Regions from separate parts of the Homo sapiens genome. Here all the other regions are linked to region 7. The links come from fine-mapping of genetic effects on gene expression. A gene starts in region 7. Each other region holds a variant in brackets. All regions are shown on one strand. Distances are from middle to middle. Region 1 overlaps ACTR1A (actin related protein 1A). Region 2 overlaps SUFU (SUFU negative regulator of hedgehog signaling). Region 3 overlaps SUFU (SUFU negative regulator of hedgehog signaling). Region 4 overlaps SUFU (SUFU negative regulator of hedgehog signaling). Region 5 overlaps SUFU (SUFU negative regulator of hedgehog signaling). Region 6 overlaps NT5C2 (5'-nucleotidase, cytosolic II). Region 7 holds the start of SLC68A1 (solute carrier family 68 member 1).

Region 1 (4,066 bases), 28 kb after region 7:
GGCCACGACTTGGCTTTTCTGAACTTGTTCCCTTGTTTGTAAAATGAGATAATACTACCTATATCTCATAGGAATGGTGTTAAGATTAAATCTGAATATGCCTGAAAATCAAATGGCTCCAGCACTCTTGGCAGTGATCATCGTCCTCCTCATCATCTCTAGGGTAGGAGTTTGACACAGCTTTGCATACCCTACAGGAGTGCCCTACACACAGGATCCTCACCTCCTCTGAGAAAGTCTGCAGCTGGTCCTTAGAATAGACATATTGCCAAATGCGTTCCATGTCGTTCCAATCCTTGACGATGCCATGCTCCATGGGATAGCGGATTGAAAGCAGCCCTCGGTGCTCCTGGGAAAAGAGAACAGGACTTACGACTGCAGTCAGGCTCCACCCAGGACCCTGTTCTCCCAAGACTAAGCAGTGCAAGCTGAATCCCTTGCAAAGAAGCCTCAGCTTCCTGAGCTTCCACCCTGCTGTCCTTGCCCAGGGCTAAGGGTGGGCACTCATTCTCCAAGGCTAAATACTGTTTGCTGCAAACTGCCCTCATTCCCGAGGAGCCGGCAAAGCAGGGGCTTCTGCATTTCCATGGCCCCTCAGGTGCCTCTAGGGCAAGTGGCAGGAGGCATCTTCCTCATTGCCTGGTTCCAGGACACAATCTCCTGGCTCCCACCTCTGGGCCTCAGCACTTGAAGCCAAGGATGGCAACAGCGATTCTGCTATCTGCTTACAAGAGGCTGCATGAGGGCTCTGACAAAGCTGTGTGAATTAACTCATCCCTAGGGTACCCCAGCCAGGATCTCCCCACTGAATATTTTTTGTGAAAAAAATAATAAACACAGTAAATTTGATCACTGACAAGGCAGTGACAGGATGCAGAAGACAACAGCCCTGTTTCCTAGACTGGTCTCAGTGTGTCCCAAAGTGAGGTCCCAGGTATTTTCTTCTCCAAGACCACAGGCTGTTCCTGGGAAAAATAAACCACCTAAGCCTAGGATGAGAGAATCAAAAAGGAGATTTTCAGAGAAAGTTGCCCCTTTTACTTATGGGTATGTCCAAATGTTGGGACATGTTCCATGTGGTGAATAATGAAGGTCCTCTGCTGGCTTAAGGCTTGTTCTGTAGGCCTGGGAATTACCTCAGCTTTGGGGCCAATGAAGATGTCGCCTTCAAGGGCTCCTGCCATGACACGAACGTGCTTGGGTCGGCCCACACTAGAAAAGACAGTGAGGAGGACCATCATTTTTCATTTCATGACAGAACACAGGAAGGATGTATAGATGTACATACACACTCAAATTCTACTGAGATTATCTTCAAGGAGTGAAGTCACAGTTGATTTTGATTTTCTTCTTTATACTTTTCTGTATTTTCCACAATTTCTAAAATGAACATGTATTATTTATATATTATTTCATATTTTATATTTATTATAAATTATGAAAACAAATTTTTAGAGTATTTAATACCTCTAGTTCTTCTCTTTCTGCAGTGTATGAACAGACCAAGAAAGATGAGGAAATGAGAATTTCTAAAGGAGTGATTAACTCAAAACATTTTAGTGTCCTTAGTCCCCTTCCCAGGACCTCTAAGTAAAACTGATGCTGGGCTGGGCTCGATGGCTCACACCTATAATCCCAGCACTTTGGGAGGCTGAGGCAGGTGGATCATTTGAGGTCAAGAGTTTGAGACCAGCCTGGCCAACATGGTGAAACCCCATCTCTACTAAAAATACAAACATTAGCTGGGCGTGATGGCACATGCCTATAATCCCAGCTACTTGGGAGGCTGAGGCACGAGAATCGCTTGAACCTGCAAGGCAGGAGTTGCAGTGAGCCGAGATTGCGCCACTGCACTCCAGCCTGGGCTACAGAATGAGACTCCATCTCAGAAAACAAAAAAAACTGTGATGCTATAGATCGGACAGATAGCCTCTTCCTTTCCTCCCCCTTTAAGCCCTTCCTGTAAGCCTCTGTGCTCTTCTCCTGCCTGCAGTCTCTCTGTCTTAGGAGGAAAGTTCTGAGAAACTCCTCATTAAGATGGTAGAAGGGCTGTAATCCCAGCACTTTGGGAGGCCGAGGCAGGCAGACCATGAGGTCAGGAGATCAAGACCATCCTGGCTAATACGGTGAAATCCCATCTCTACTAAAAATACAA[A/T]AAAATTAGCCAGGCACGGTGGCAGGCGCCTGTAGTCCCAGCTACTCGGGAGGCTGAGGCAGAATGGTGTGAACCCGGGATGCAGAGCTTGCAGTAAGCCAAGATCACACCACTGCACTCCAGCCTGGGCAACACAGCGAGACTCCGTCTCAAAAAAAAAAAAAAAAAAAAAAAGATGGTAGATGGGTTAAATGTTAATCCCCAGCCTGGGTGATAGGAGAATTTTAAAAGGAGGGCTCCACCAAGAGGCAATCCTCCAAAGCAATAAGTTACCAATGATAAAATTTTTTAGCATCAGATAAAATTGGATTTTTAAAAAGAGGCCTCTTATCTGTGCCTCTCAAATTGTACCATGTAGACAACTGTTTTCCTTTGTTGACTCCAAACTCGGCTCCTGTCCCTTATAGGGCTGGGCCTGTAACAAAGCTGATGAGCCTCCAAAACGTCTAAGCTACAGAATGACTTACTAGTTTGGAAAGCAGTATTTGGGGATCTGATCACCAGCAAAACCAGCTTTAATCACACCGGATCCCTGAGGAAAGAGGAGAGAGAATGAGGAGTCAGAACTATCACAAATACAAAAGGAAAAATACATTATATGGTACCATTTTTATTTAAGAAAAGAAAGCGGCCGGGCGCAGTGGCTCACACTTGTAATCCCAACACTTTGGGAGGCAGAGGCAGGCGGATCACTTGAGGTCAGGAGTTTGAGACCAGCCTAGCCACCATGGTGAAAGCCTGTCTCTAGTAAAAATGCAACAATTAGCTGGGCATGTTGGCAGGCACCTGTAGTTCCAGCTACTTGGGAGGCTGAGGTGGGAGAATCACTTGAATCTGGGAGGCAGAGGTTGCAGTGAGCCAAGATTGTGCCACTGCACTCCAGCCTGGGTGACAGACTCTGTCTCACAGGAAAAAAAAAACAAAACTAATATTTGTATATAATATATACATTTATTTGAACCTAGAAAAAGGTAAATGCACACCAAAAGAAGGGAAGTGGAAATAGGATGGTGAGGAGGATTCTCACTGTATACACAACCGTATGTGTGATTTTTCTGTAGTCTCTGACTTTTCTACATTGAACATGTTTTGCTTTGGGAATTAAAAATACTAGTAATAAAGGGAAGAAAAAGACAGAAAACCTGGGGAAAGAAGAAAGTACCTAGAAGCATCAAAGCAGCCAAGTTCAGGAACATAAGGTAGGAAAAGCACATGACTCCTTGTTACGCCACCCTGGGGTGCTTTTAACCTACTTTCCCAGCTCAGGCCTGAACTCTCCCAGCTTCCAGGGCCTCTGTGACAGACACCGCCATGAGCACTGTCATGCTTGAAATGGACTCCCATGGAACACGTGCTGTCTGGTTCTTATTGCAAGGGCAGAGCACGATGCTTTGGGAGATTTTTGTTGTTGTTTTCTTTTTAACTATGCTTTCCTTTTACTCCTTGGTCTCCTGATGGTAAAGAGAAGCAAAGACTAAAGCCTACTCTGAGAATAGAAGAGAACCACAGTCCTGCTGCTCCAACACTTGGTATGTCGAGTGAGGTGTCCAGAAAAGAATCTGAGTTCTCCCAGCATCTCAGGTACCACCCAGGGCCCAATCAATGTAAACAGTGACTCTGGACACAGAGACCAACCCTGTGCAGGACAGATGTCAAGGCTTAGTATTGCTTGTAGATACACCCTGTCCTCTTCCTTTTTTTTGAGATGGAGTCTCGCTCTGTCGCCCAGGCTGGAGTGCAGTGGTGCAATCTGGGCTCACTGCAAGCTCTGCCTCCCAGGTTCATGCCATTCTCCTGCCTCAGCCTCCTGAGTAGCTGGGACTACAGGTGCCCACCAGCATGCCTGGCTAATTTTTTTTTTTTTTTTTTAGTAGAGACAGGGTTTCACCGTGTTAGCCAGGATGATCTCGA
Region 2 (4,066 bases), 100 kb after region 7:
CACCCTTGACAGAGTCTACAGGCAGTAAGAGAGACATTTCTGTCCTATGTCCTTTAAAGATGAACCAAAACCTCCACAGAACCGCCCTCATTGGTGTCCCCTTTGCATCTCATTGGCTAGAGTTAGGTCAAGGATGATATTGGCTGGGAATGGGCCTGGCTCGCAGAAGGGAATGGCCAGGAAAAGGCAGAAAACCAAAATTGGGGTTCTGTTAGTAAGGAGGGGAATGCCCATCGTGTGGGCAAAACACTCCCCACCTAAGAAGCCCCAGCCCTGCCTGGGATCAGAGGAACCTTGCCTATTGATCAGGACACTGGGCCTGGGAAGAGAATGTTCCAGTCACGAGGACAGGATGGCTGTCATTTCACCTGCTATGGCAGATTTACAAACAAATCTAGCCTGTGGCATGAGTCGTTTGGAAAGTTTTGCAATAAATGTATCAGTAACTTCACCAGTAGACACATCCATGTCTGTCTGTCCTACTTTGCAGCCAGTTTTTCTTACTTCCCTGTTCCCCTTTCATTTTACGATCAGTTTATTCTTTTCAGATTGCCAGTTACTCTTCCCCTGCCCCCCATCCTCTGGGTTTCATTAGAAAGAAACCATTCCCCAACTCAACAGGGCTTGATTTCTGAACTGTGCTTTAGAATTCTGCTGGAGAGGCTATCTGCTCTCAGTTCTGCCATTGGTAGGCTTTAACCACAAATTCCAAGGCAATTTCATTTGCGTTTTTAGGAAAAACGTATCTCCCCAACCTTGTAACTGACACTGGAAATTGAAGTGCCTTCACTTGCTGCTGTTTAATGGCAACCTCATGACATGTGCTCAGTTGGCTCGATTTGTGAGTGGCTCGATTTCTGAGTGCTGGGATGGCACTGCATGAGTAGGGATCTCTCCCAGGCCATCAGAGCTCATGGCTGATCCAACCCTGTGGTACTGACAGACTCTAATGCTAACAGAGATTTTTTTTTGTTTTCACATTTTCTTCCCTTTCCCCTGTTTACAAAAGAAATACTTGCTCATTATAAAATTGAAACTTAGAAATTTAAAATCTGACACAGAAGGTGAAAGTCCTTCATAATTCATTCCCTCACAGAGAAAACTTTGGTGTTCCTCTTTCCAGGTTTTGTTTGCCATGCGTATGTCTGGATAGAATTTGCAGTATTTTGACCAGGCGCAGTGGCTCACACCTGTAATCCCAGCACTTTGGGAGGCTGAGATGGGTGGATCACTTGAGGTCAGGAGTTTGAGACCAGCCTGGCCAACATGATGAAACCCCATCTCTGCTAAAAAAAAAATACAAAAATTAGCCAGGTGTGGTGGTACATGCCTGTAGTCCCAGCTACTTGGGAGGCTGAGGCACGAGAATTGCTTGAACCTGGGAGGCGGAGGTTGCAGTGAGCTGGGAGCACGCCACTGCACTCCAGCATGGGTGATAGAGCAAGACTCAGTCTCAAAAAAAAAGAACTTGCAGTATTTTGTAAAAATGGACTATGCTTTTCATACTGTTTTTCACCTTGCTTTTTTAACTTACTATCATTTGGACATCTGTCAGGATGTTCTTTTTAACGCGACACTTTTTTAATACCTACATATACTGTACTTTATTTAACCAGTCTTCTATTGTTAGACATTTGGGTCATTTCTAATTTTTTCCTTTCACAAAGCTGCAGTGAGCGTCCTCGTATATGTACATCTTTGTATTCTTACCGAAGTATTTCTTTTTTTTTTTGATGAGATGGAGATTTACTCTTGTTGCCCAGGCTGGAGTGCAATGGCGCGATCTCGGCTCACCGCATCCTCCGCCTCCCAGGTTCTCCTCCCAGCGATTTTCCTGCCTCAGCCTCCCGAGTAGCTGGGATTATAGGCATGTGCCACCACACCCGGCTAATTTTGTATTTTTAGTAGAGA[C/T]GGGGTTTCACCGTGTTGCCCAGGCTGATCTCGAACTCCTGACCTCAGGTGATCCGCCCGCCTTGGCCTCCCAAAGTGCTGGGATTACAGGCATAAGCAACTGCACCCAGCCTTACCGGAGTATTTCTTCAGGATAAATTCCTTTAAATGGGATCACTTAGCCAGGTGTGGAGAAATTAACCTTTACATGTTAATAACCATTGCTAAAGGATTTTTAAAGTGAGGAGGAATTAGATAAATTAATATGTTATTAAAATAATACTATTGGGGCCATCCAGTAAATGTTATCGTTATTTTCAACAAACAATAGAAGGATCATTATATAAAAGTGGTTGTTTTTGTTTGTGTGTTTTGTTTGAGACAGAGTCTCGCTCTGTCACCCAGGCTGGAGTGCAGTGGTATGATCTTGGCTCACTGCAAGCTCCACCTCCCAGGCTCAAGTGATTCTCCTGCCTCAGCCTCCTGAGTAGCTGGGATTACAGATGTGAGCCACTGCACCGAGCCTAGTGTTTTTATAGCAACAAAATACTTTACTGAGTCCTTGAGAATAGGTCCCCCTTCTTAGGTTCCTTGGCCAGAGAGATTGGTTCATACACACTATGTGGCATGCATTTAGGGTTAGGAAAGACCAGCAAGCTTTTTTTTTTTTTTTTTTTGAGATGGGATCTCACTCTGTTGCTCAGACCGGAGTCCAGTGGTACGATTATGGCTCACTGCAGCTTTGACCTCCCGAGCTCAGTTGATCCTCTTATCTCAGCCTCCCAAGTAGCTGGGACTACAGGTGCATGCCACCACACCCGGCTAATTTTTAAATTTTTTGTGGAGACAGGATTTCGCCATGTTGCCCAGGCTGGTCTTGAACTCCTGGGCTCAAGTGATCTGCCCATGTTGGCCTCCCAAAGTGGAGGGATTATAGGCATGACCCACTGCGCCTGGCTAGCAAACCTTATACAGTGTGTTGCACAGTTTAGAGTTCCAGGAATCCATCCATCATGCTTCCTGTCTCTGAAGTTGGAAGTGCTGAGGGACACAGCCTGCCTCTGTAAGTCAGAGAGACTTTTCCAGATATTGACAGCAAGTCATGTTTTACATAAGGAACCTCAATGCATTGTAGAGTTTTCTTGGGGTTTGCCTCCTCTTGCCTTCCCAAAAGTTAACAGATGTGATTCAGTCTTTTCCTGTTGAGGCCCTTTTTTAAAACTTGCTTTTCTATGCCAGGTGCGGTGGCTCACGCCTGTAATCCCAGCACTTTGGGAGGCCCAGGTGGGTGGATCACGAGGTCAAGAGGTTGAGATCATCCTGGCCAACATGGTGGAACCACGTCTCTACTAAAAATATAAAAATTTAGCTGGGTGTGGTGGCACGCACCTGTAGTCCCAGCTATCGGGAGGCTGAGGCAGGAGAATTGCTTGAACCTGGGAGGCAGAGGTTGCAGTGAGCCGAGATCGCGCCGCTACAGTCTAGCCTGGGCAACAGAGCGAGACTCTGTCTCAAAAACAACAACAACAACAACAACAACAGCAACAACAAAACTTGCTTTTCTATAGTTAAAAGTAAGTAAATAAAACAGTAGGTATTGGCTGGCTGTGGTGGCTCACACCTGTAATCCCAGCACTTTGGGAGGCTGAAGCAGTTGGATCACTTGAGGCCAGGAGTTCAAGACCAGGCTGGACAACATGGTGAAACCTCATCTCTACTGAAAATACAAAAATTAGCTGAGAATGATGGTGCATATCTGTAATCCCAGCTACTCAGGAGGCTGAGGCATGAGAATTGCTTGAACCTAGGAGGCGGAGGTTGCAGTGAGCTGAGATCGTGCCATTGCACTCTAGCCTGGGCGACAGAGTGAGACTCCGTCTCAAAAAAACAAAACAGTAGATATTGAGCACCAATATCATAGGTACTTACCTTCTCTTATTTAACCTGTGCGGTGGGTAGCGTGGTGAGGAAGATACTGGTTCATATTGCCCCTTTTCAGATGAGGCGATAGGGAGGTGATGGGCCCTGGAGAACTTCCTATAGCTGCTGAGTGGCAAGAGCAAGCCTCCAGGGACAGTCTAACCAGCCTGCTCTGCGTGCTCCAGCCTCTCAGCCGCCAAGGGTCCATTTTAGATGAAGAGAGAGGACTTGGGGAAAAGGAGCTTTTTCATCAGTT
Region 3 (4,066 bases), 76 kb after region 7:
TTGCAGGGTCAGTAGCCACCGTGGCTGGCCTGGCATTCCTTGCTTCAAAGACCAATGGAAGCATCCAGGCCACCCCCAGAGGAAGGGGCCTGACCTTGGGCCTCTCTTGCCATGTCCTTGGCATATGCATATGAACACTTAGCAACAGACTATGTGAAGCCTTGCACGCTAGACCTGCAGATACAGTAGTGACCAAGATACAACCCTGCCCTTGTGGGGTTTATAGTCTAGGCTGGAGATGATGATGATGATGATGATGATGATGATGATGATGATGTTGTTGATGATTTTAAGACAGAGTCTTGCTCTGTCTCGCTTCGGTTAGAGTGCAGTGGCACCATCTCAGCTCACTAGAGCCTCTGTTTCCTGGGTTCAAGAGATTCTCCTGTCTCAGCCTCCTAAGTAGCTGGGACTACAGGCGCCCACCAACACACCCGGTAATTTTGTATTTTTAGTGGAGACGGTTTCACCATGTTGGCCAGGCTGGTCTGAAACTCCTGACCTCAGGTGATCCACCTGCCTCGGCCTCCCAAAGTGCTGGGATTACAGGCGTGAGCGTGAGCCACTGTGCCTGGCCAGGAGATTATAAATGGTAGAAAATTTTGGAAAATACAAAGAAGTTTGAAAAACAAAAATTATACTGTAGTAGCCACTATAATAATTTTATTGCTTTTTTTTTTTTTTTTTTTGAGACAGAACCTCACTCTGTTGCCAGGCTGGAGTGCAGTGGTGCAATCTCGGCGCACTGCAACCTCCGCCTCCCGGGTTCAAGCAATTCTCCTGCCTCAGCATCCCGAGTAGCTGGGACTACAGGCGCCTGCCACTACACCTGGCTAATTTTTGTATTTTTAGTAGAGACAGGGTTTCACCATGTTGGCCAGGATGGTCTCGATCTCTTGACCTCGTGATCCACCTGCCTCGGCCTCCCAAAGTGTTGAGATTTCAGGCGTGAGCCACCATGCCTGGCCTGCATTTTCTTTTTCCCTTATATATTTTACTCACATTTAAAATTTCGTATTTACATCAACATTTTGAATCATACTTTATGTTGAATTTTGTTTTGTGTTTTTTCATAACTACTTATTTGTGGCATAATGTACATAACTTATCTTTTTCTTAAATTATTATACTTTTTGAGATGGAGTCTTACTCTGTTGCCCAGGCTAGAGTGCAGTGGTGTGATCTTAGCTCACGGCAACTTCTGCCTCCTGGGCTCCACTGATCCTCCTGCCTCAGCCTCCCGAATAGCTGGGACTGCAGGCATGTGCCACCAAACCCAGCTAATTTTTGTATTTTTAGCAGAGAGAGGGTTTCACTGTGTTGGCCAGGCTGGTCTTGAATTCCTGACCTCAGGTGATCTGCCCGCGTTGGTCTCTCAAAGTGCTGGGATTACAGGCATGAGCCACTGCACCCAGCCTACATAATTTAAATTTACCTTTTTTTTTTTTTTTTTTTTTGAGTCAAGGTCTTGCTCTGTCACTCAGGCTGCAGTGCAGTGGTGCAGCCACAACTTACTGCAGCCTGGACCTCCCAGACTCAGTGATTCTTCTGCTACAGACTCCGAGTAGCTGGGACCACAGCTGCACACCACCATGGCCAGCTAATTTTTAAATTGCTTGTAGAGATGGGATGTCCTTATGTTGCCCAGGTTGGTCGCAGACTCCTGGGCTCAAGCAGTCCTCCCACCTTGGACTCCTATAGTGCTGGGATTATAGGCATGATCCACTGCACCCAGCCCAAAATTTACCATTTTAACCATTTTTAGATTTACAGTTCAGTGGAATTAAGTACATTTACCTTGTTGTGCAACCATAACCACCTTCCACTTTCAGAAACACTCTGTACCCCTTAAACAATAACTCCCCCTTCTCACTTCCTCCAAACCCTGGCAACCACCATCTTATTTCTGTCTCTATGAATGTGACTACTCTGGGTACTTCATATAAGTGGAATCATATGACATTTGTCCCTTTGTGCCTGGCTTATTTCACTTAGCATAATGTCTTCAGGGTTCATCCATGTTGTAGCAGATGTCAGAATTTTCTTCCTTTTTAAAGGCTAATATTCCATTATATGTGTATACCAATTTGGCTTGTCCATCCATCTATTGACTGACTCTTGGGTTGCTTCTACCTTTTGACTATTGCTAATAATGCTACTCTGAACATCAGTATACAAATTTCTATTCAAGACCCTGCTTTCAGTTCTTTTGGATATATACCTGGAAGTAGAATTGCTGGATCATGTGGCAATTCTATGTTTAATTTTTGAGGAACCGCCATACTGTTTTCCATAGCAGCTGTATCATCTTACATTTCCACCAGCAATGTGTAAGGGTCC[T/C]AATTTCATGACCATTGTGAAAGGAGTTTATTTTTATGCTATAGTGAATAATAGGTGAACAGAAAACATTAGAGGCTATAGAGTGGGGTTCTGATGTAAAGTTCCTGTTCCTCTTTACCAGTAAGAGGTGGAAAGAGAACCCCTCACCTCTCAAAGATTAGTCCCTCTGCTTTCAGAACCATTGTTTTTAGTGACTTGTAATGTCCTACCACATAATGTGCCAGAACTCATATAATACCGCTACTTGTAGAACAGTTAGATTGTTTCTAGATTTTTTATTCTTATAAATACTACTGAATATACTTATGCAAGAGGCTTTTTTTTTTCCAAATGTAAGATTATTCCCTTAGGTAAATTAGCAGAACTGGAAACTGCTACTGTAAGTAATCACTGACACTAAGATCTACTGTGTTCCAGGTGCTGTTCTAAGTGTTTTCTATATTATATGTTAACTCATTTTAGTAGCTACCATATGGAAACTACAATTATCTTCGTTTTTGAAAAAAGACTTTTTTAGAGCCGTTTTAGGTTCTCAGCAAAATTGAGCAGAAAGTACAGAGAGCTACCACACACCCTCTGCTTACCACACGCATGCATGCACACACACACATGTATGCAGCCTCTCCCGCTGTCAACATCCTTACCCAGATTGGTACATTTGTTACAGTCAGTGAACCTACGTTGACACATCATCACCACCCAAAGTTCATAGTTTACATTAGAAGTGAGAAGGTATATAAGTGAAATGTAGATAAGAAGAGAAGTAAACTCTTCTTATCTACATTTTACAGATGAAGAAACTGAGGTACAGAGAGGCTAAGTGATTTGCCAAGGGTCACACAGCCAGGAAGGGTGGCAGAGCTAGGATTTGGGCATAGGCAGCCTGGCTTCAGAGACTGTGCTCTGGCACTGCTGACATTTTGGTGGCTCTTGATGCATATTCAGTGCTTTTTAAGTGTGGCAGTGTTTTGCTTTGTGCGGGTCAGACAGTGGACACTTCAGGATCGGTTGACCAACTGTCCCCATTTGCCTGGGCTTTTCCTGGTATGTGGGGCTTTCAGTTCTAAAGCCAGAAAAGTCCTGGGCAAACAAGACAAGTTGGTCACCCTGCTTCAGTGACTCCAGAGTCTTTTTTAGTAACTTAATTGTCACATCTCTTAGATGCCTTCAAATGTTTCCTCAATCTTTCTGTTTTTCATGACCTTTTGAAGAGTACAGGTCAGTTATTTTATAGAATGTCCTTCAATTTGGATTTATCTGATGTTTCCTCATGCGTAGGATCAGTGTATGTATTTCTCCATAGGAATATCACAGACATGTTGTGCCCTTCTTAGTGATCATATCAGGAGGCACTTGATGTTGATTTGTCTAATTACTGTTGATGATGTCTAATTACTTTGATTGTTTGGTTAAGGTGGTGTCTGCTAGGTTTCTCTTCTGTATAGTTACTGCTTTTCCATTAATAATTAATAAGTAACTTGTGGGAAGGCATTTTGAGGCTATGTCAGTATCTTGTTTCTCATCAGATTTTTTACCCACTATTTTTACCACCCGTTGATGATTCTTGCCTGAATTATTATTACAATAGTTGTCAAATGGTGACTTCTCATTTGATAATTGTTTCTACATTCATTCATTGATATTGAGATTTTACTGTAAGGAAGAGTCTTCTCCATATTTACTTACTTATTCATTTATTTATATCAATGTATTAGGGCTCTCTAGG
Region 4 (4,066 bases), 170 kb after region 7:
CACAGATTCTGGTTTGAGGTTTGACTCTGGACCCTGGCTGTGCCCCTAGGTGGAGACAGCCCTCTTTCTCACCTACCCCCTGCCGCACAGCCCAGCAGGAGGGAGGCGGACAGCCAGATGCAGAGCGAGTGGATGCACTTCCCAGCTCATCTCTGGAAGCCTTTGCTACTCAAGCTCCTCTGGCCGCGGAACAATTCCTCTGATCATGTTTGGTTTTCTTCTTCCTTATTTTATTTTGTAGAAACCGGGTGGTATTTTATTGCTCTGCAAAGATGTCCAGAAGCCATGTATATAATGTTTTTTAAACAGAACTTCATTCCCCGTTGAACTTTCGCATTCTCTGACAGAGGCCTAGGGCTGTATCTCTCCCTGGGCTGCCACCAGAGAAGGTGCTTGGTGTTCGCCTGCCAGCCCAGAGCCCTGGAGGAGCCGGCTGCACAGAGAGGCTTTTCTTCCCAGCTGGGCCTGGTGGAGCCCGGGGCAGGGGGAGAGTAGAGACACTCCCTTGTGCAGCTTTGAGCCTAGTTTAGCTGGGGCCAGGGAGGGGTGCTACTGTTTTCCAAGTGAATGGGTCTCAAAGACTTGGTGACCCCAGCCTCATCTTCTAGGCCTTTTCCACCCAACCAGGCCTACCTGGGAGAGGGTGAGGTTCAGCACATCACACACCATCCCCACTGTCATTCAGGGCCTGGGTCTCCAGCTCTGTAACCAGTCCTGTCCCATTTCCTCAGTCCCTGGGCCTCCCAGCCTTCAGGCTGTAGGGCTGCCTTACTAAAATTGAAAAATCCACCTCTTAACATCTCTTTCACTTTGGTTTTGCTAACACTGCTCTCTGCTGCCCTCCCATCCTCCCTGTATCCATTCATGCCCTATCTTTCATTCTCCACTCCTAATCCCTCTCCTTTCTGGCATCCTGGCCTCTCGTGGTCCTCAGCCCCTCACCCCCAGTACTGCAGATCTCACAGTTTGCCTTCCAGAAGCCAGCCTATCTCTAGCCCATGGTTTTGGAGTTCCTCTCGGGTTATCTCCCACGCCTGACCTGGAACCAGCAAGCCCCTTTCCTGCCTTCTTACCCCCAACTCTAGGGATGGGACTGTTACAATACTTCAAGATCACTCTTTACACCTCTTCAAAGCAAAGTCATGACAATGCAGGGCTCCTCATTGCTCCCATCTGCCTCTGCTGCACACACAGGCACCAGCAGGGATGCCACAGGAGTGCCCACAGGGTGCAGGACTCCACTGATGAGAGATCCAGCCAAAGAGCTGCCCCCAGGGGTATGAGGGCACCAGCTGGGTTCTCCAGGGAGCAGGAGTTGGACCTCCATGGAGCCACTAGGCCTGGCCTCCTCTACACATCCCCAGGGCTATCTGGTTAATTCCATCAAGCTCAGAGTTAAAAGGCATATCAGCCTGGAGTATTTGGGAGAGACTGGCTGCAGATCCCCGCCAGCCAAGATGCAAGCCACTCGGGACCTGATGTCGGCAGCTGTGCCTCTACTGCCCTGAGGACTTACCAGAGGGAGCCCTACTGGCCTTCCCCCACCACAGCAGCCCTGCCTGTGAAGCTCTTGTTTCTGACATTTCACAGGCAGAGAGGTGCCATCAGTTCGCCTCCATTCCTTGCCACCATGACCAGCCTCTCCCTGAACTCTCTCTTGCTCGGGACCTGCCTGAGGGCTCCCTGCTGCAGTTCGCCGTACTTCCATCTGCTGGGTGCCTCCATCGTTGGTTGGGTGGGGATGGGGCATTTTCTGAGCTAAGCTTTGTCATTAGTTTGTGAAGCACCTGGTCAGCAACCTGCCCCAGACCTGGAGGGTCTTTGTGGACTGAAGGTAGACACCAGCCAGCATGGTGGCCCTGTTCTGGGGGAGCAGGGTAAGGCAGGAGGAAGTGGGTGAGCTCCGAGATGATGAGCACATGAAGCCTGTGGCCCCTTCGTACCTGCAATATGTCAGGAGCCTCACGCTCACCCAAGATCCTGCAGGGGCCAGGCTCCATCTCACTGGCTCTGAGGGCAGGACAGGGTATCACACATTTCTCACCAGGCCTCCTTTCCTATGGGCATTGGTGCCTCCCAGAGGTTTCTTGGGCTGCTGGCTGGTGAGAGAGGACCCTTAAAGAAGATCAAGCCAAGCTGACCTTGGACCCTGTCCAGCACAGCTTCTGGCACAGGATGCTTGGTGAATGTACCCTTTCTTTCCCTCCCTGCAGCTCTGAGGGAGCCCCTGACCTTGTAGTGGGTGGAGGAGGTAAGGGGCCTCCCTCCCTAAATCTGCCTCTTCTGCAAGCTACTTGGAGACTTGCCTAGTTGTACCCACCCCTCCAGGTCCCTGGTGCTAGAGCTTCTGAGAAGGGCCTTTCCCTTTCCTCTTTGCCTGCTATATAAGGCAGG[C/T]TCCTGTGGCTCTGCTGGCTCAGTGTGGGCTGCAGGAGGACTGCAGACTCAGCTGCAATTCTGAGGGGGGTTTGGGAGGCTTGTGCGAGGTCTCAGGCCTGTGTGGGGAGCTGGTGCCTCTTCCTGCCCGTATCTTTCTCTTCCAAGGGCAGTGCTCCAAGGCAGGGACTGGAGAAGCCAAGGGGAGAGTCTAAAAGGGCTAGAGCATTTTTAAAAATAGACACAGGGTCTTGGGACTGGGGTTTCGGATTGAGTTGCAAGCAGGGAGAAAACCTGAAGGTCGGTGCCCCTATGGGGCTGACCAGTAGAGAATTTCCTTTACTGTATTTTTGTGTCTGGTCTTCCCTTTCTGGCTTCTAGGACATCCATGCCAGGTGAGGTGCCTGGGTCCCTGTTACAAGTCAGGAGCCCTGTAGGGAGACCCCTCCTTTTGTACAAGTACCTGAATGCTGCGACAAGCAGATTTTTGTAAAATTTTATATTAGTTTTTAATGTCAGTGGCGACTCGGTTCCTGGGGCTGCAGCCAGCCTGGGACTTTTGTAAGAATTTTTGGGTGACTCACTTAGATGTCGTTTCCTTCTTGCCCCCTCTTCCTCTCTGTAATCTAAGTGCATTAAACATCTTTGCAGAAGTGCCTGGGTTGTGTGCTCATTTCTGGCTGCCTGAAGTAGTGGAGCCGGAAGCCCGGGGCCCTGGCAGAGGGAGTGGGTTGTTGTTAGCCACTTAGAAGCCAGGATGGAGGGAGGCCCCCAGGATTGTTGTCGAGAGTGGAGGAGGTGCCAGAGAGTGGGATCACACAGCTGGTGGCTCTTCAGTCTTGAAGAAATGACCTTGCAAGGACAGGCTCTCCCTCACTGGTCCTGAATTCCTCTAAGGTCAAGGGGGTGGGAGCGAGGAGCAGTCTGGGGAGATGAGGCGGTGGGAAAAGACCCTCTCCCTGCCACTACATCCCTCTTCTATCCTCCTCTCACCAAAAACCCCTTTTGCCTTAGGAAGAGGGGCCCAGACAGGTGAGGAGGGCAGGCCCTCCTCATCTCCTTTGGAGTCCTTGCCCGGCTTCCAGCTCCTCTCACATGACATCTAAATTCCACCTCCTAATCCAGGGCCCAGGGGCAGGATCCAGATAGAAGGGCAATTCAGAACCGGTGGCACCCACTGGGTGACACAGAGGCCAGCCCACCCGCCCTAGCAACTCCACTGGGCCTGGCAGTGGAGGGAGGTATCAGGTATATCTTCCTTTCCTGGACTGCCCAGCTCCTGCCTCTCCAGGGCTGGGGGGCAGCAAAACAGCCCAACGCCCAGTGTGGGGAGGCACTGAGCTGGGGGAGAAGGCACTAGCCTGGCAGGCAGGATAAGGGCTGCGCCCAGACAGAGTTCTTGGAACCTGTGACCACCTGGGCCCTCACATATTCATTCCCTTCTGGTTTTCTATCCTGGATAGTGGCAGGGGATTTGGCTGGGGCTGGGGGCTGGGGCGGAGGTCCTAGGACATCATAAGCAAGGGAGAGGGGGTGTCAGCTCCTATGAGGGGGTTCTTATGTCCTGTCCCTTCTGTGAGACCTAGCCATGTGGGGGGCCTTTGCTGAGAGGTCCGCACTCCTTCCCCTGCAGCCTCTTACTGAACTCTCCAACGGAGCAGTGCAGCAGGTCCTGTCTGGGGCCCTCATGCCC
Region 5 (4,066 bases), 110 kb after region 7:
ATAGGATAAAGCAAATAAGTAATTATGTTAGAAAGCAAGATGTTCAGCATAAGATTAGAAAGATACAAATATATGGCCAGGCGTTGTGGCTCACATTTGTAGTGCCAGCTGTTTGAGAGGCTAAGACGAGAGGATTGCTTGAGCCCAGGAATTTGAGCCTGCAGTGAGCTGTAATTGTGCCACTACACTCTAGCCTGAGTGACACAGTGAGACCTTGTCTCTAAAACAGTAATAAAATAAATAAAAGATACAAATATAAAATCAAATAAGTAAAAATGTTATATTCTTAAATTTGGATTCTAATTAGCAAGATGAACAAAAGATGTGTTTTCTCTTTCTTTTAAAAAAAATGTATTTTATCTTCGTCACTAAAAAAGCCTTGAAACAGGCCGGGCACAGTGGCTCCTGTAATCCCAGCACTTTGGGAGGCCAAGGCAGGCGGATCATGAGGTCAGGAGTTCAAGACCAGCCTAGCCAATATGGTGAAACCCTGTCTGTACTAAAAATACAAAAAATTAGCCCGGCATGGTGGCATGCACCTGTAGTCCCAGCTACTCAGGAGGCTGAGGCAGGAGAATCACTTGAACCCGGGAGGCGGAGGTTGCAGTGAGCTGAGATTGAGCCACTGCACTCCAGCCTGGGTGACAGAGCAAGACTCTGTCTCAAAAAAAAAAAAAAATTAGGCATGGTGGTGTGCCTGTAGTCTTAGCTACTCGGGAAGCTGAGGTGGAAGGATTGCTTGAGCCTAGGAGGTTAAGGCTACAGTGAGCCATAATGGTGCCACCACACTCCAGCCTGGGAAACAGAGCAAGACCTTGTCTCAAAATTTTTTTAAAAAGCTAGCCTGGTTGAAAATGCCAGTGGTGCCATTTTAGTTGCCAGCCAAGGATGGCTCCTAATGTTCTAGTCCATTTTCTGCTGCTTATAACAGAATATCTGAAACTGCTAATTTATAAAGAAAAGGAATTTATTTCTTACAGTTATGGAGGCTGAGAAGTCCAAGGTTAAAGGGCCCCATCTGATGAAGGCCTTCTTGCTGGTGAGGAGTCCCTGCAGAGTCCCAGGGACATCACATGGCAAGGAGGCTGAACTTGCTAGCTCAGGTCTCTATTCTGATAAACCCACCAGTTTCTACCCCCATTGTCCACCTCTGTGATAATCCATTAACTTATTAATCTATATATGAGGGCAGGGCCCACATGACCCAATCACCTCTTAAAGGCCCCACCTCTCAATACTGCTAGATTGGAGACTGAGTTTCAACATACCTTTTGAAGGAGGCAGACATTCAAATCATACCACCTAGCTTCCTGGCATGTCCAGATTAGTGCCACTGCATTTGGAGTGATGCCACAGTAGCCAGTGTGATGGCTGCTGGTGCCACATAGCAGAGGGGTCAAGGAGGAGGATCATCTTTCCAACATTAAGTATATAGATAATACATAAATAAATTTCAGATTTTTTTTTGGAAACGGGGTCTCTGTTGGCCAGGCTGGAGTGCAGAGGCGTGATCTTGGCTCACTGCAGCCTCAACCTCCCGGGCTCAAGTGATCCTCCCACCTTAGCCTCTGAGTGGCTGGGTCTACTGGCACATGCCACCATACCCCGCTAATTTTTCTGTGTTTTTTTTTTTTTGTAGAGATGGGGTCTTGGTATGTTGTCCAGGCTGGTCTTGAACTTCTGGACTGAAGTGATCCACCCACCTCAGCCTCCCAAAGTGCTGGGATTACAGGCATGAGGTACTGCAACTGACCTCAGATGTTAAAAACTTAGACTATACAGATAAAGTCAAAGTTCTCTGTGACCACCCCACCCAATCTCAGGGCCCTCGCTAAAGAAACCCTCTTTATCCATTTGGTGTGCGTCCTTGCAGCTTGCCAGATTTTTTTCTATGTATTCACCTTCTTCTGGGTACCTATGAAATGGTTTGGGTTTCTATGTTTTTTTTTCTTTCTTTAATGTAAATGAAACTGTACTGCCCTTCACAATTGGATTTTTCAGTTGACGGTATGTCTTGAAGATCTTTATTTAATTTTTTTTACTGTTGTCTGTGATTTTATTGTATGAATAAACCATAATTTAACTATTCCCCTGGTGATGCACCTTTAGGTTGTTGCCATTTTTGCAGTATTACAAACAGTACAAAGATGCAGTGACCATCCTTATTCATTCCTCCTTGTGACATGTTTTGCTCTAGGGTAGATATTTATAAGTAGAATGATTGGGTCAAAGGGAAGTTACCTTTTATATTAATAGATTCTGCCATTTGGTCCTCCA[A/C]AGTGACCATACTAGTTTATAGGTCCATGGCAACTAAATGTTTTGTTTTGTTTTGCAGTGACAGGGTCTTTCTCTGTTGCCCAGGTTGGAGTGCAATGGTACAATTATAGCTCACTGTAACCTGGAATGCTTTGGCTCAAATGATCCTCAAGCCTCAGCCTCCCAAGTAGCTGTGGAACTACAAGTGTGCACCACCATGCCTGACTAATTTTTAAATTTTTTTGTAGAGACAGGGTCTCACTGTGTTGCCCAGGCTGGTCTTGAACTCCTGGTCTGAAGCGACCTTCCTGCCTCAGCTGTGGGATTGCAGGTGTGAATCACTGTACCCAGTCTAAATGGGTTTTCATTCCTGATTTAACTGGTCTCTTCAGGAAGAAGATGGGAGGAGTAGAAGCATGTCCTGGATTTTTTCTTTTCTTTTTTTTTTTTTTTTGAGATGGAGTCTCACCCTGTTGCCCAGTCTGGAGTGCAGTGGCACCATCTTGGCTCACTGCAACCTCCGCCTCCCAGGTTCAAACGATTCTCCTGCCTCAGCCTCCTGAGTAGCTGGCATTATAGGCGTCCACTAACACGCCAAGCTAATTTTTGTATTTTTAGTAGAGACAGGGTTTCACCATGTTGGCCAGGCTAGTCTTGGATTTTAAAGCTTCAAAGGATTTCCTGGGATTTTTTTTTCTTGTTTCTTTTTTTTTGGAAATGGAGTCTCACGTCTTACTCTGTCACCCAGGAGTGCAGTGGTGTGATCATGGGTCACTGCAGCCTCCCTCTCCCAGGGCTTAAGTGATCCTCCCACTTCAGCCTCTGGGACCACAGGCATGTGCCACCACACCTGGCTAAATTTTGTATTTTTTGCAGAGGCAGGGTTTTGCCATGTTGCCAAGGATGGTATCAAACTCCTGTGCTCAAGTGATCCACCTACCTCAGCCTCCCAAAGTGCTAGGATTACAGGCGTGAGCCACTGCACCCAGCCCTCCTGGCATTCTTTGGTTGAAATGTATATAGGACTACGAGTTGTTTTTTTTTTTTTTTTGAGACGTAGTCTCGCTCTGTTGCCCAGGCTGGAGTGCAGTGGCACGATCCCGGCTCACTGCAAGCTCCGCCTCCCGGATTCACGCCATTCTCCTGTTTGAGCCTCCTGAGTAGCTGGGACTACAGGTGCCCACCACCATGCCCGGCTAATTTTTTTGTATTTTTAGTAGAGATGGGGTTTCACCATGTTAGCCAGGATGGTCTCCATCTCCTGACCTCGTGATCTGCCCGCCTCGGCCTCCCAAAGTGCTGGGATTACAGGCGTGAGCCACCGTGCCTGGCCAGGACTACGAGTTTAAAACCTCCTTAGTCCCTTTGGCTTTAAGAACAAAGAGGCTGGTGGCTCATGCCTGTAATCCCAGTACTTTGGGAGGCCGAGGCGGGTGAATCACGAGGTCAGGAGATCGAGACCATCCTGGCTAACATGGTGAAACCCCGTCTCTACTAAAAATACAAAAAAATTAGCTGGGCGTGGTGGTGGGCGCTTGTAATCCCAGCTACTCGGGATCGCGCCACTGCACTCCAGCCTGGGCGACAAAGCGAGACTCCGTCTCAAAAAAAAAAACAAAAACAAAAAACAAAGAACAAAGAGGCTTGGGGCCAGGCATGATGGCTCATGCCTGTAATTCCAGAACTTTGGGAGGCCGAGGTGGGTGGATCACTTGAAGTCAGGAGTTCGAGACCAGCCTGGCCAACATGGTGAAACCCCATCTCTACTAAAAATACAAAAATTAGTCTGGGTGCAGTGGCACCTGTAACC
Region 6 (4,066 bases), 630 kb after region 7:
GTTGAGCTCCAGTTCACAACTTAGTGTTACTGTAACACAACTCAAGACGCCAACATTCTAAACTTAACCTCGAAGAGATTCAAGAAGGTTAAACAAGATAACCTCTCATATTTATTCAAATTCTGGAGTTCTGTGAAATATCTGAATATTCTATGGGAAGGAAGTATCCAAATATCAAGGCCTGCCTTTTGACCACCTCTGACTTCCTGAATACAAAGTAATGGTTTATCAAAGACGACTGATTCAAAGCTGGTCATTTAGATATAAATTACACCAAAGATTTATGAATGGCTTACAACTCTTGTCAGTCCAGACATGTAGCTCCTGTGCGAGTTCAGGAATCACCAAAAAAGTTCGCCACCCTTGCCGTTTCTTTGATTTTAAAATGTCCCCAAAAATGTGATCTCCAATATACAAAATGTCTTTTCCCTTGGCTCCCAACAGGTCACAGATCGTATCAGAAGAACCTGAACCAACAGAGTGAACAATGAGAAAACTGTCCCTATATTAAAATCAGCATTCCAATAGTATTTAACCATTAAATACTATGATTCATTTTATTCTTATATGAGGAACAGACTAGGAAGAATAGACAAAGACTCACCATTCTCTTTTTACTGCCTTCTAAGACAAGGCCTTCAGCTCCACTGTGCTGACCAGAGCTCTTGCTCACCAAATCCAAGAGCAACAAAACTACATCCTCAGCTTAGTGAAAATAACCTTCAAAACAGCCACTGCCAATTTCATCACAAATCTGCCATTAAGCTGGCTTTACTCAACTGTTTATAACTCCAACATACTATGTACCTATACCCATGGAACTCCTTGAGAAACCCTTGAGAACATATTGAGAAGTACCCCCAAGTGATTCGAAGCACTGAGAAAAAGCCTCCAATAGGATTTAAAAAAAAAACTGATCATTTTAGTGAAAATCAGATTCATTAGGATATACTAACAACTGCTCAAACCCAGACTCCTATTGCATTAAGAGGTGACTAAACTATTTACCTTCAGTAGATGACATCTTAGACTACTAAACAGTATATGTGGCACTTTGCTGAGAGATTACCAAAGCTTTCACTGTGAGGTCTGAGCAAAGACATTAAATAAAGGGAAGTCTGTGACTTACCTCCTGAGTAGACGATACCATGCTGTAGGGGCCCTGTGTAGGTACCAATTTTCAGCTTGCCAGTTTTCTGTATGAAGAATATGGATTTTGTAATACTTTATCATCCTATCACAATCCTCCCCTCACCCCACAACCCTCCCATCCCACCCCCCACCACCAGTGCTACTTGGCCAGACAGCCAAATGAATGGCACTTACTCTTTTCAATTAGTGGGTTTGTTTGACTGTTTCAGTTAAGACCAAAACTCTTAATTTCAAAAGAGAGATACGGCTAATTAAAAAAAAAAAATTCCTGTTTCCTTATGTAGAGTAAGAGTGGGGGAAGGAGAAACATTAAGGACAATGTGCTAGCAAGACAGATCATTCTCATGACTTACAGTATCCACCTGACGCAGTACTGTGCCTTCTCCAAAAAAGAGTGGTTTCCGTGCATCCACCAAGATCAAGTCAAAGTAGGACTGCCATGGTCGATGGGAGCTCCCAGGCTGGTGAAGGAGAAACAGCAAAAGTTGAAACATCACTCCTTACCTTAAGGCATTACTATTTAATCTCACTCAGATGCAAGGAATATAAAAATACTAAGTATAGCCAGAAGATCCCACTATTTTATTTTTTAAAAAGGTATTGTGTCAGCCAGGCACAGTGGCTCACACCTGTAATCCCAGTACTTTGGGAGGCCGAGGCGGGCAGATCACAAGGTCCGGAAATCAAGACCATCCTGGCCAACATGGTGAAAACCTGTCTCTACTAAAACTACAAAAATTAGCCGGGCGTGGTGGCGGGCGCCTGTAGTCCCAGCTACTTGGGAGGCTGAGGCTCGAGAATCGCTTGAACCTAGGAGGGGGAGGTTGCAGTGAGCCGAGATCGTGCCACTGCACTCCAGCTTGGCAACAGAGCAAGACTCCATCT[C/CAA]AAAAAAAAAAAAAAAATTGTGTCTATGTATTATAAGCCATATCCTTTGGGAAGCAGACAAGATATAAATAATAAATAACTGTAATAACACATTCTATACATTAAATCATTTCATCTACTACTAAATTACAATACTTATTTTACAGCACTTTATGAAAGTGTGCTCACCTGAAATTTGCTAAAAGGAGCTCAAAAGAGCTAGGGAGAGATGCAAATCAATACCCAAGGGACAGATTAAGACAGAGGCAGGCATCAGAGCTAAAGTATACAAACTAACATGGAACTATTAGGAAATTTTACTGGTTACATTCTCAGAATGATGGCTCTAGGTACACACTGGCTTTTGGCTCACAGTGTAAGCTAATCACAATACTGAGTTATGCCCATTAAAATCATGACTATCCTGAAATGGAACCCTGGCATTAACCTTTTAAGACCAACCTGAAGGGCACTGCACACTGTGATTTCAGGTGTTCTCAAAACAGGGATTTGCTGATGTTTATTCACTAAAGTCTAGGACTAAAATTCTGTAAGTATGTGACTAAGTTGCAAGGAGTATTCCTTAAACCTAAGTGCAGCCGTACTGCAGAAATGAAGACTTCTCTGCTAAATATCAAGGCTGAGTGCTCTCTTGGCAAAAACTTAGCAACAACTAATACAAAATCTAGAAGTTGTCAAGAATACACATACATTTTCTGTTTCTGTTAATCAAATATCATCCACAACCTGAAAATTCCTTTCATTGCCACACAAACTTAATTTTGCATAGAACTTCTTGGGCATAAAATTATTCTGATCCCATCCTACTAAATATCACATGAATATCCCTTTTATTTCTGTCTATTAAGTATTCAAGTTGCGGACTCTAAATTAGCAATTTGATTTTAAATTCTACTAGCTCCTGGATTACTTCTAATGTTAATGAAGATTAGACAATAGGCTTAAAAAGTAGGACTTTTCTGGGTGGGTTCTGACCAATTCTTTCCCCCTTAATATTCCAGAATGATTAAATGCATTCATTGTTATTAAAGCAGTGGTCTATTGAGTCACATACGGTACCTTGGGGCCATGTGGGAAGTCAAACAGGTAAGTCATAATTTTCTGGAAAAAAAAATTTAACATAAGGTCCATATACTACTTTTGCAAAAGGTATATAACCTAAAGAAATTACAAGCTTTTCACAAAACATGTCTTTTTCAACATAGGACTCACCACATTCTTGTTTCCTCTAAATTTTATGAAATCATGGCAGTGGAAGCCAGAAATTAATGCTTTACCATATACCAAAAAGAAAAAAAGGCTTCTGACATTCTCAGGGAGGATACATACTTCCTCTGGAAGATGTTTTTGAACACACATTTGGAGGAAAGGAGCATATGAGGTAGGGGTATAGAGAAAACTAATGACTCACACAGAAATAACCTATCACCTTGGCTTCGCTACTGCCATCCCTAGACCAACTAAGTCAACAAACCAACGGTTTATGTAAGACTGTTTACTACAAATCACCAGGTGTCTAAATCAAGTTTACATGTACAGCGAATTGGGGGAAGTGGAACTTCTTGCCAGTACTATAAATTTTTAAGTGTCTCAGCAAAAGTAAGATGAAGTTAAGGAGTTAGATCAGTTTTTCCACATGCTTTAATCATGGGAAAAAACTGTTTTTAAGAGGTAGTAAATTTTGGGCTGGGCACAGTGACTCACGCCTGTAATCCCAGCACTTTGGGAGGCCAAGGTGGGTGGATCACGAGGTCAGGAGTTCAAGACCAGCCTGTCCAAGATGTTAAAACCTCGTCTCTACTAAAAATACAAAAAAATTAGCCAGGCGCAGTGGCAGGTGCCTGTAATCCCAGCTACTTGGGAGGCTGAGGCAGGAGAATTGCTTGAACCCAGGCGGCAGAGGTTGCAGTGAGCCGAGATCGCACCACTGCACCCCAGCCTGGGCGACAGAGTGAGACTCTGTCTCAAAAAAAAAAAAAAAAAAAAAAAAAAGATATATAAATTTTGACAGCTAAGAGCCAAAACATCT
Region 7 (4,066 bases):
GGAGGAGTTTCAGCAGTTGTCTAAGTCTAGAAGAGAGATGGTTGTATGTATGTGTGTGCGTGTATGTGTGGCTTGGGGTGACATGGGAAGTGTGAAGGGTGTCCGAAAGAGAGAGATTGGGAAGGAGGGAAATGAGACAGGTTAGTGGGAGATGGATTCTGGGGGCAAGGTTCATGGCATCCCTGGGGGCTCCTCAGGAACTGGTTGAATAATCTGTAGCCCCTGGACACTAGGCGTCTACATTGGACCATTTGCTGTGGTTGTTAGGAGGAGGACAACATTCCTGTTGCAGGAAGTTAGCCGACAACCATCAATGAAGGTCATAAGGATGAGCAGTTCACAAAGCTCCTACACCCTTGTTTCTCATTTAATGTCTGAAAAATCCCTGTAAAGCATAAAACAGACTCACAAAAGGAGGGTCCCAGCCAGGTGCAGTGACTCACGCTTATCATTCCAGCACTTTGGGAGGCTGAAGCGGGAGGGTCCCTTGAGCCCAGGAGTTCAAGACCAGCCTGGGTAACATAGTGAGACTCCATCTCTACAAATAATTCTAGAAATTAGCCAGGCATGGTGGAGTGAGGTGGTGGTCCCAGCAACTTGGGAGGCTAAGGTGAGAGGATCATCTGAGCCAGGGAGGTGGAGGTTACAGTGAGCTGAGATCATGCCACCACTGCACTCTAGCCTGAGCAACAGAGCAAGACCCTGTTTCAAAAAATAATAATAAAGAAGTCCCTTAGCAAAGAAGTGTTGGAGCTAGGGGTTGAGTTCCAAGTCCCCCATAAGGCAAAGGCCACAGGCTTTTTGCCCTGTGTCCCAAGGTAGGGGAACCAGGCAGAGCTGGAATGTGTGCTGTTTGCTTGCCCAAAAACCTATCCAGGCTTACAGGCCAATTGGGAGAAAACATAAAACATCCTCCACAGCCTACATTGAGCCAAACAAAACTTGATTTTGAGGGATTGTGCAGGTGTGGGAAGAGGAAAGACTCTTGTTATGGGAGTCAGGATAGCGGGTTCCACCTCGACTGGGCCCTTGCTGTTTGCGTGTCATTGAATCTCTCTGAAATGCAGTTTCTTCACATATAAAATGTGGATAAAAGCGCCTACCTCCTAGGAATGATGTGAGGACTCAACAAGAGAATGCACGTGTTGTTCTGAATGTAGTACGGTGCACATAGCAAGCACTCAGTACTCCTTAGGTTTTATTATTGCCGTTATTAATACAAAGAGGTTGTGCTGCATGGTTGCTCATTCAGGCCCTGGTGGCTGTTTCCCACCTTCAGCCCTGGCTCCTGTGGCTAGAGCCCTGGTGCCCACAGCTCAACCTGGACCTGTCCACCCTTGAAGGGCTCATGATGCAGCATCAGGGAGTCCCAGATCGAGCCGCTGACACCTCCAAGTCGGCTGCAGCTGTGCATCCGCTCAGACCACAAGACTCAATGGAGGATGCTGACCTCTCTTTGTTCTCCCAACGAGTACTAGGCAAGGAGGGAAGGAAGGTGAGCGCTTAGAAAAAACGTGTTGGTTTCAACTGAAATGACATTAAGCTATCGTGGAGGTAAAGGAGAGGGGTTGAGCCGGTCAGGAATCCAGGCAACCTGACCCTATTTGCCAGTGTCCGCTTTTAATTTTGGTCGCTAAGGGCAAGCGCCCGTGACAAACATGGCGGCGGCAGCCTCAGGCGCAGTCACCTGCCGGAGCTGCGCCCGGGGGCCGCGCGGAGCCAATCGCTGGGCGGGGGCGGAGGGAGAGGCTGGGGAAGCCCTAGAAGTGCGCGCAGGCGCATTGGCTCGCACCTGGCTCCCGCCAGCCGTGGGATTAGGCTTCGCCGGCTACGATTGCGGTGAGACGCTGGCCAGCGGCCGGGGCTCGCGGGCAGGAGCGGGCTGGGCTGGGGCCGATCTGGCACAAACGACAGACCCGAGGGGGAGGGGAATGCTTTGCGCTCTGGGAGTCATGGGGGCTATCTGCGGGGGTCTTTGGGGTGATCATATTGTGGATTGGGAGAGTTGTGTGGTCCGGGCGGAAGAAGCGGGGTTCAAGGGGGCAAGGGTGGAATCCTCGCAGAAAGGCTCTCCGGGGGTCTGGAGGAAAGGGATGCAGTGGGTCAAATAGCTCCCTGGTGGTCTGGGATCGAGGGATGCACTGGTCAGGTCGGGATCCGTGCCATTAGCATAAAGGCATTTAACCCTGGTGGCACTTGGGGAGCTTTGAAAAACACCGATGCTGGGCCCGCCCGAAGAGATTCCGATTTAACTGTTCTGGGTGAGGCCTGGGCCTCGGTATTATTGCACAGCTCCTCAGGTGATTTTAACGTGCAGGCGGTGGGGAGCAGCCCTACACGTGTTTCAGCACCAGCTATTGAGTGAAGAGCTCCTGGGCTGATCCCAAACTCCTCAGTGGCTTGGGAGGGGTGGGTGGTCCTGAGGTGAAGCTGTCGCCTCTTCTGGGACCTGTGGGGGAGGGAGAGGGAGAAGGTCCCCATCTCAACAAGTTGAAAGCTCATTTCCAGCCGGAGGAGGAGGATGGGCCCCCACCCCCCAACCCTGGTGCTAGACCCTGCTGTGGGGAGACTGGGCAGGAAGACAAGACCCCGAGAGTGAAACAGGAAACACAGCAGACAATTCAGGGGTCAGCTGCCTGTTGAGAAAAGGGCACATATTATACCTTTCATGTTCATTTGTTCATTTGGTATTCCTGAGGATAGGCAGAGAATGGAATTGTTTTCTCTGCTTCACAGATGTAGGAATAGACTCAGATAGTAAGTTAAAGATAATGTTCACACCTGACCCAGGGCTCCTGACTCCAAATTATGCCTCTTCTTAGCTTTTACCTCTGCACTAATGTCTCTTGTACAGTCTGATACCTCTCACTCCAGGGGCCCAGTTCGGCATTCTTGGTTTCCGCCACTAAATTCATCAACCTCCCCCACCCACCATAGGTTGGTTCAGAAATCAGGGAGATGTTGCTGCTTCCATCCCTTTCTAGTCTTTACCTACCAGGGGCCTGGTAGGGTGAAGGGGAAGAGTTTTGACACCTGCTAGAGGGCTTCTTCCAAACAGATCTGTCACTTCCCCACCCCCAGCGCCCCACCTGTTGTCCTCAGCATAGAATCTTGCACAAGGTTTACAAAACCCTTCCTGATGTGGCCCCTTTCTCCCGCGCTGCTCTGAGCTCTCTTCCCAGATTGTTTCTGTGTCTCTTAGCACAGTGCTGTGCACCCGGCGAAAGCTTAATAAATGTTCCTCTGTTATGATCACTATTCTTCTTTGTACCTGCTGCCTTGCTTTAGTGTCTTACTCAGAGAGGCACATCAAGCCTCCCAGGCTGCCCCTTCTCTCTGACTCCCACAGTTAAGCAGAACACAGAGCTAGGAGGGGCACAGTGGGGTCTGAAGATGACAGTTTTCCTATGACTGCTGCTGCTGTTCCCTAGGGCTGAGGATGTTGTTGATATTGACCTTTTAGGGGCCAATCGACCCAGCAGGGATTGACTGAGCAAGCTGAGGGAGCCTGGTGGAGGCAAAGGGCAGGGATCAAGGGCGGGACTAACCCAGCCCTGCTTTTTTTTTTTTTTTTTTTAAGAGACGGAGTCTCACTCTGTCCTCCAGGCTGGAGTGCAGTGGCGCGATTTCGGCTCACTGCAAGCTCCTCCTCCCGGGTTCACGCTATTCTGCCTCAGCCTCCCGAGTAAGCTGGTACTACAGGCGTGCCCGCCACCACGCCTGGCTAATTTTTGTATTTTTAGTAGAGAGGAGGTTTCATCGTGTTAGCCAGGATGATCTCGATCTCCTGACCTCGTGATTCGCCCGCGTCGGCCTCCCCAAGTGCTGGGATTACAGGCGTGAGCCACCGCGCCCGGTATCAGCCCTGCTTTTAAGAAGCCTGTGGGCTGGAGGAGGGGAAGGGAGGCATTTGGATGCCTGATAAGGGGGAAAACGGGAGAGAACACGTGATTGGGTGTGCTTGGGAAAGCCGTGACACTGGATGAGCAGGATTTGATAAGATGGGGGCAGGGTGTGGGGGGGATGATGAAGTGAGAACGCTGTTGTTTTAGTCAAAACCTGTTTT

Evidence for each region. PIP is the estimated chance that this variant, and not a neighbour inherited with it, causes the effect.
Region 1: its variant is the best candidate, but not a certain one, in a credible set for the expression of SLC68A1 in whole blood (INTERVAL, PIP 0.70).
Region 2: its variant is the best candidate, but not a certain one, in a credible set for the expression of SLC68A1 in whole blood (INTERVAL, PIP 0.52).
Region 3: its variant is the best candidate, but not a certain one, in a credible set for the expression of SLC68A1 in whole blood (TOPMed, PIP 0.57).
Region 4: its variant is the best candidate, but not a certain one, in a credible set for the expression of SLC68A1 in whole blood (INTERVAL, PIP 0.83).
Region 5: its variant is the best candidate, but not a certain one, in a credible set for the expression of SLC68A1 in prefrontal cortex (GTEx, PIP 0.64).
Region 6: its variant is the best candidate, but not a certain one, in a credible set for the expression of SLC68A1 in prefrontal cortex (BrainSeq, PIP 0.72).

What each region holds. Positions count from the first base shown.
Region 1 is chr10:102,487,927-102,491,992 of GRCh38, forward strand. It overlaps ACTR1A (actin related protein 1A), which reads right to left. Exons shown (of 11, transcript NM_005736.4): 2 at 2,623-2,687; 3 at 1,137-1,212; 4 at 224-349. Among named protein-coding and RNA genes, the nearest start is that of ACTR1A, 13 kb to the right of the region's middle. The variant A/T (reference allele first, on the strand shown) is at 2,156.
Region 2 is chr10:102,559,120-102,563,185 of GRCh38, forward strand. All of the region lies in intron 3 of SUFU (SUFU negative regulator of hedgehog signaling), which reads left to right. Among named protein-coding and RNA genes, the nearest start is that of SUFU, 57 kb to the left of the region's middle. The variant C/T (reference allele first, on the strand shown) is at 1,912.
Region 3 is chr10:102,535,694-102,539,759 of GRCh38, forward strand. All of the region lies in intron 2 of SUFU (SUFU negative regulator of hedgehog signaling), which reads left to right. Among named protein-coding and RNA genes, the nearest start is that of SUFU, 34 kb to the left of the region's middle. RefSeq lists an enhancer at 1,484-1,643. The variant T/C (reference allele first, on the strand shown) is at 2,341.
Region 4 is chr10:102,630,429-102,634,494 of GRCh38, forward strand. SUFU (SUFU negative regulator of hedgehog signaling) reads left to right here. Exons shown (of 12, transcript NM_016169.4): 12 at 1-3,107. Among named protein-coding and RNA genes, the nearest start is that of TRIM8-DT, 11 kb to the right of the region's middle. RefSeq lists enhancers at 1,132-1,879, 1,880-2,625. The variant C/T (reference allele first, on the strand shown) is at 2,395.
Region 5 is chr10:102,574,392-102,578,457 of GRCh38, forward strand. The region is part of intron 3 of SUFU (SUFU negative regulator of hedgehog signaling); the gene reads left to right. Among named protein-coding and RNA genes, the nearest start is that of TRIM8-DT, 67 kb to the right of the region's middle. The variant A/C (reference allele first, on the strand shown) is at 2,278.
Region 6 is chr10:103,092,843-103,096,908 of GRCh38, forward strand. It overlaps NT5C2 (5'-nucleotidase, cytosolic II), which reads right to left. Exons shown (of 19, transcript NM_001351169.2): 12 at 3,097-3,138; 13 at 1,506-1,613; 14 at 1,130-1,196; 15 at 297-467. Among named protein-coding and RNA genes, the nearest start is that of NT5C2, 98 kb to the right of the region's middle. The variant C/CAA (reference allele first, on the strand shown) is at 2,038.
Region 7 is chr10:102,459,612-102,463,677 of GRCh38, forward strand. SLC68A1 (solute carrier family 68 member 1) reads left to right here and starts at 1,784. Exons shown (of 10, transcript NM_024789.4): 1 at 1,784-1,839. LOC124902493 (a long non-coding RNA gene) reads right to left here. Exons shown (of 3, transcript XR_007062270.1): 3 at 1,182-2,449. RefSeq lists enhancers at 1,303-1,372, 1,500-2,183, 2,184-2,866 and a silencer at 1,643-1,862.